Linked DNA regions of Homo sapiens. The protein of the gene in region 1 purifies or fractionates together with the protein of each later gene. This does not show direct contact. Each region holds a gene or a part of one and is shown on either strand. Other genes may lie near its edges.

Evidence for each region. Proteins that work in one complex are often made in the same cells at the same time.
Region 2: the proteins of CSPP1 (region 1) and HOMER1 purify together in Homo sapiens (affinity purification with mass spectrometry; 2 studies listed by BioGRID and IntAct, with this or other methods). This does not show direct contact.

The regions. Positions count from the first base shown.
Region 1 is NC_000008.11:67,158,392-67,161,891, reverse strand, and holds part of CSPP1 (centrosome and spindle pole-associated protein 1), read right to left. Parts: intron 3,446-3,500; coding exon 3,296-3,445; intron 2,902-3,295; coding exon 2,755-2,901; intron 82-2,754; coding exon 1-81. UniProt on the Homo sapiens protein: May play a role in cell-cycle-dependent microtubule organization.
Region 2 is NC_000005.10:79,392,135-79,395,634, forward strand, and holds part of HOMER1 (homer protein homolog 1), read right to left. Parts: intron 1-3,500. UniProt on the Homo sapiens protein: Postsynaptic density scaffolding protein. Binds and cross-links cytoplasmic regions of GRM1, GRM5, ITPR1, DNM3, RYR1, RYR2, SHANK1 and SHANK3.

The DNA of each region.
Region 1 (3,500 bases):
GTCAACTGAAGGAGGTCTTTGGAGTTTGCTTGCAATTTTGTTCTGAAGAGCAGGAACTATAGGAGAAGGCTGTCTCATGTGCTGAAAAATTTAAAAAATTTAAGAGCATATTTGCTTCATCACACTCACACACATATATACACACACACACACCCCTTATAGTTAAGAAAGTCATCTAAGAAGTTTAGATTGTTATTGCTTTTATTTAATAAAATGCTTTCTACAAAAGTCAGAAATTCAATTACATAAGATCAAACATGTTGGTTATGATAAACATAAATGGATTTAGACATCTTTATTAAAACAGTATGACTGTCAGATTAGGATTTAAAAAATCAACAAACACAAGTAAAGCAACAAAAAAGAAAAAATATAACAAAACTAAAGAATCATCTTTAATAATAAAAAGGTACCATGACAATACAAAAAAATTAAATAACAAAATCCTTCTGGAAAGCAATACAAATCAACCTCGAAAATCTAGATCTAATCACTAACAGCATCATGGATGAGGGACTTTTCAAGATCACGATGGGGTTCTATATTTCAGTTTATAGTGTATTAAACCTTATAGTCCAAAAACTTCATTGTAAATACAACATAGACATTCTAAATCCCTGTAGAGGATGGAGCAAACAAGCCATAGTACACATAACAAAAGACCAAAAAGCTATCAAGGAAGAAAAACACAAAAAAGTCAGAAATGCAATTAATGCAAAGACATTAGTTTTGATAAACATAAATGGATTTAGATATCCCTATTTTAAAAGATTAGGCCAGGTGCAGTGGCTCATGTCTATAATCCCAGCACTTTGGGAGGCCAAGCAGGCAGGTCACCTGAGGACAGGAGTTCAAGACCAGCCTGGCCAACATGGTGAAACCCCGTCTCTAATAAAAATTAGCCAGGTGTGGTAGTTTGCACCTGTAATTCCAGCTACTGGGGAGGCTAGGGCAGGAGAATCACTTGAACCTGGGAGGCGGAAGTTGCAGTGAGCCGAGATTGCACCACTGCACTCCAGCCTGGGCAACAAAGCGAGTCTCTATTTCTAAATAAATAAATAAATAAATAAAAATAAAAAGATTATAACTCAGATTAGGATTTTAAAAATTCAACAAACTAAAGATAGAAGCTAACTAAATAAAAAATATGGTGACACAAAGGTAAAACTGAAGGAATAGACAAAAATATATATATATATCAGACATACATAAATGAAAGAAAATGATAGCAATGTTAATTTCAGAAAGGCAAATGCATTAAATGGGATAAAGCTGATTTAAAACTTTATGGTACTTTACAATTAAATTATAATATCATAAAAGTATATATTCCTTAAAAAATAGCATTTTTAAAAAACATAAGAAATTACAAGAAATATAATTATGGGAAACTAACAATTCTGTTTAATTCTTTTTTTTTTTTTTTTGAGATGGAGTCTCGCTCTGTCACCCAGGCTGGAGTGCCACAGTGCAGTCACGGCTCACTGCAACCTCCGCCTCCCAAGTTCAGGCGATTCTCTTGCCTCAGCCTCCTGAGTAGCTGGGACTACAGGTGCCTGCCACCACGCCCAGCTAATTTTTGTATTTGTTATAGAGACGGGGTTTCACCATGTTGCCCAGGCTGGTCTCGATCTCCTGGCCTCAAGTGATCCGCCTGCCTCGACCTTAAATTCTTAAATGATGAATTTTACAATAAAAAATTATCTGTGAGGCAGGGTGTGGTGGCTCACACCTGCAATCCCACCACTTTGGGAGGCTGAGGCAGGAGGATAACTTGAGCCCAAAAATTTGAGATCAGCCTGGGCAACATAGCAAGACCTGGTCTCTTAAAACAAAAAGAAAGAAAAAGAAAAAGAAAAAGAAAAGAAAAGAAAAGAAAAGAAAAGAAAAGAAAAGAAAAGAAAAGAAAAGAAAAGAAAAGAAAAGAAAAGAAAGAAGGAAGGAAGGAAGGAAGGAAGGAAGGAAAGGAAAGAAAGAAAGAAAGAAAGAAAGAAAGAAAGAAAGAAAGAAAGAAAGAAAGAAAGAAAGAAAGAAAGAAAAAGAAAGAAAGAAAGAAAGAAAGAGAGAGAAGGCCGGGCGTGGTGGCTCACTCCTGTAATCTCAGCACTCTGGGAGGCAGAGGTGGGTGGATCATCTGAGGTCAGGAGTTTGAGACCAGTCTGGCCAACATGGTGAAACCCCGTCTCTGCTAAAAATACAAAAATTAGCTGGGCATGATGGCGTGTGCCTGTAGTCCCAGCTACTTGAGAGGCTGAGGCAGGAGAACTGCTTGAACCCAGGAAGTGGAGGTGCAGTGAGCCAAAATTGTGCCACTGCACTCCAGAGCCTGGGCAACAGAGCGAGATTATGTCTCAAAAAAAAAAAAAAAAAAAAAAAAAAAAAGAATACATATATATATATATATAAACCACTCTCACTTTCTGTATTAGTCTTGTCATGAACCATAACAAACAGTTCATGTTGTACTGTCTGCAGACCATATTCTTGGGTGGCACCGCATACACCATGGGAATGAGACTAAGAATGGCTCAAGTAAGTAAATCCATTACCTTCAATGGACAGAAAATACCAACAAAGCACAGTGACAGTACCTCCTACAGAAAGTTCAGTACATTGTGCCCAGACTAAACAGTAAGACAGAACAGGAACAAAAGCACCTCCTCCTCTTTCTCCCCTTTTCTAACAACTGTACAACTCTCACAGTGAAAGTGAGTTAAACTATGGGTTTGATTGACATTTTTGTCTGAAACTTACCTTTGTTTCTTCCCCAATCAAATTGTCTCTTTCACAGTAGTGCTGAAGTTGCAGGTTATATTTTTCTTCTTCTTCTTTCTTCTTTCTTTCTGCTTCTTTTTGTCTTTCTTCAGCTAACCGAATATGCTCTTCATTTTTTAGCCTTTGCTTTAAAATAAAAAGAGAAATATGCATTCCATATATTCCTTCTATAGTACATTCAAAAATGTGCTGCCTTATTTATCTGATAAAATGAGATAAAGATATAGATGACATGATATGGTGTTCTTTAACATAAGTTGTCTGCTTAAAAATAAAATATTAGGCATCTTTTATAAAGTCTTCAGTCAGCCTACATCTATATTTTTAAAGTCATCACTTATCTCCTTTCTTAAATTACCCTTTCACCTTAATAAAATAATATCCAAAGAATGTATATTGATCTGATATTTTCTAAATGTACTCCAACACTGTTCTCCTTTATAAGTAAGAAATACCTTTTCAAGTCAAAGATTTCACCTTCAGACTAAGTAGTAAAATACAATAGGGAAAAAAGATGTACCTCCTCCTCTTTCTCTCTTTTCTTTTCCTGTTCCTCTTCATACTCCTGCTGAATTCGTGCCCTCTGTTCTGCAAGCCGTCTTTCTTCTTTTTCTTCTGCAATTCTCAGTCTCTCTCGCTCTGCTTCCTCTCTTTGTTTCTTTTCCTCAATCTAAAGAATTAAACTTAGTTATTTATCTTGTAAAACTATTGAAAAGTTAGAATAT
Region 2 (3,500 bases), on another chromosome or scaffold:
CTGGTTTATATATTTATTATACTATACTATTTATTACTATTCAAGTTATTTTAGAGTGTACTCCTTCTACTTATTTAAAAAAACATTAATTATCTGACAGCCCCAGGCAGGTCCTTCAGGGGGTATTCCAGAAGAAGGCATTGTTATCATAGGAGATGACAGCTCCATGCCTGTTATTGCCCTTGAAGACCTTCTAGTGGGACAAGATGTGGAGGTAGAAAACAGTGATATTGATGATCCCAACCTTGTGTAGGCATCAGCTAATATGTGTGTTTGTGTCTTCGTTTTTTAAAAGAAGTTTAAAAAGTTTTAAAAACATTTTTTAATAGGAAGAAAGGTTACAGACTAAGGATATAAAGAAAATAGTTTTCTACAGCTGAATACATGTTTATGTTTGCAGCTATTACAAAAAAGTAAAAAGTTAAAAAAATTTTAAATGTTTATGAAGTTAAAATGTTACAGTAAGCTAAGGCTAATTTATTATTGAAGAAATAACATTTTAAAAAATAAATGTAGTGTAGTCTAAGTGCAGTGTTGATAAAGTCTACAGCAGTGTATGGTAATATCTTAGGTCTTCAAATTCACTCACCACTCACTCACTGACCCACCCAGAGCAACTTCCAGTCCTACAGTTCCATTCATGATAAGTGTCCTATTCAAGTGTACAATTTTTACCTTTTCTACTGTATTTTTACTGTACCTTTTCTATCGTTTCTACTGTATTTTTACTCTACCTTTTCTGTGTTTAGATGTGCTTAGATACAAATACATGAATACTTACCACTGTCTTACGAGGGAGGGAGGGAAAAGAAGGGAAAGGGAGAGAGAGAGAGAGAGAGAGAGAGAGAGAGAGAAGAGAGCCATCCAGAATAAAACAAAGCAAATATAGCCAAAATGACATTTGGGGAATGTAAGTAAAGGGTATATAAAAAATTTCTGTATTATTCTTGCAACTTTTCTGTAAGACTGAAATTATTTCAAAATAAAAAGTTTAACTAAAGAACTTATTTATGTAACCAAACACTGCCTGTTCCCAAAAACCTATTGAAATAAAAATAAATAGCTTAAAAACAAAATAGAAATAAAAAACAAGATCATTTCAGCTAGTGATAAGTACTAAAAGGAAAATAAAAAATGGTAATACTACAAAAAATACCTGGGATGGGGTGTGGGGACTGTAGCATAGTCCTTAAATTGGGAAGTCAGAGAAATTAACATCTGAACTAAGACCTAAACTAAAAATAGAAGCCAGCCATCTGAAGATTTGGGCAAAGAATTCCAGGCAAAGATATTCCACATGCTCTAAGGTGAAAATGCACTCGTGACTTCAAGATACAGGTAAAGACTAAATGCATGTGAAAAATTGTTCAATGTTATTCATAATTTAAAAATTAACTAAATAGTTGAGTCACTTCATTTCTTAAGAGATGGCAAAGAACGGGTCCAGGGGGTACCAATATCCAGTGGGTACCCTGCTTTTCCAGATGTCAATTTCCCAGCATAAGAAATTTTAAAACATTGACACCAAGCAATTCTTGTTTGAAAGTTTATCTTAAAGAAATAATCAGAAAGGCAAAGATTTATGAAAAAGGTTGTAATATTATTTATTTATAGCATAACACTGGAAACAACATAAACTGCCATTACTATAGGAATGCTGGAAGAAAACTATGATACCTCTATATGGGAGAATTCTATGCAGCCATTGGGCTTATGACATAAAGTTAGATAAAAATGTATACAAACAAAAAATGGTATCTATATCCATCTCTTATAAAGAAAATATTATCTAAACCAACACTGGGACAAGGAAATGCCAGTTACCTTGCCTTAAGATGACAGGATTATGATTTTTTTAATATTATGGAATTATGATTTTATACTAACCTTGCTAAGTACATTTTTTGAAATTTTTCTAATTTTTTTTACAATGGGCATGTTTTTCATAGACATTTATAACAGAAATATCCAAATATTGCCAAATATCAAAAACTCATAAATTAGAAAAACTGTAGCACGGTATCCTTAATTTACCAATAACTATACATTTTCTATCCACATTCAACTCTAAATACTAATCCAACTCTAAATACTGCAATTTCAGGATTCTTTTCCAAGGAATTTAATGATCCCAATTTTCTGTACTGAACTTATGAATGGAGTTCAAGGGTGCTGGGACCTTTGATAAACAGGAGATGTTTCTGTGGGAGGGAGAAGGCTGCAGAGGAGGAAATTTCTTTGAATTGGAAAAAATATGTTATTTTCTGTAGCTTGTTCTTTTAGAATTCATCCTCAGGTTTTCTAAAAGCTTCCCTGTCCTGTTCTAGGTAGGTTGTTTTGATAATATTTTTGATATTCAGTGAAAGGATGGGTAAGAATTATATTCACAATTTCAAGTGCCAGCTATAAAATTCAATTACTGCTCTATCAATGATGAAATCCATTCATTCATACATTTATTGAGAAAGGGTCTCATTCTGTCACCCAGGCTGGAGTGCAGTGGTGTGATCATAGCTCACTGCAACTCCCAACTCAAGCGAGGCTCAAGTGATCCAAGCAGCTGGGACTACAGGTGCACACCACCACTCCCAGCTAATTCTACTGTTTCATTTTTTTGTAGATGCAGCATTTCGCTATGTTGCCCAGGTTGGCCTTGAACTCCTGGCCTCAAGAGATCTTCCTGCCTCAACCTCCCAAAGCACTGGGATTATAGGCATAAGCAACTATGCCTGGCTTCAAATACATTTAGAATTATCAACATTAGAAATTTGATATAAATATATCATCTCTTTGTTTCTCTTCATAAGTGAGACAATGTAAATGTGTATATAACTGAAAATACTTTTTAAAAGAATCATTAAGGATGACTTGACTGTTTGTTGCTTGAAGAAGTGTGGTAATGCAGAAAGAACGGACTTTGGAATAAAATAAATCTAGGCCTCATTACTTTCTAGCTAAGTGCCTTAATTAAACTTGTTAACACCTTTGAACTGCTGTCTTCTCTTTGAAAATGGGGATACCTCACCTGCTACTGTGAGAATTAGAGCTAATGTAAGTTAAGTGCTTAACATATGCTTGAATCATCGCAAGTACCCGAAACCCAAAACAAACGAAAGACAAAACTTGACTGAATTTCCCCCTTTCTTCCAGCCCTGATTCCATGCTTCATATTTAAGTTCTACATCAGGATTTCTCAACCTTGGCATTATTGACATTTTGGGTTGGATAATCTGATTCTTAGCAGCATCTCTGGCTTTGTCTACTAGATATCAGTGGCGCTCCACTAATTGTGAAAATAAAAAATGTTTGCACACATTGCTAAATGTCCCCTGGGCTTCAAAAGTGCCCCAAGTTGATGACCACTAATCTATATAGACGACTAAAATATACAAACGGCATTTAATAGGGCCAACCAAAACAAGTGATCTCATTTTTCCCAGACTACTGAAAGCCAGTGATGGGAAGGGGAGAGGTAAATATTCCATTTTATATAAGGAATC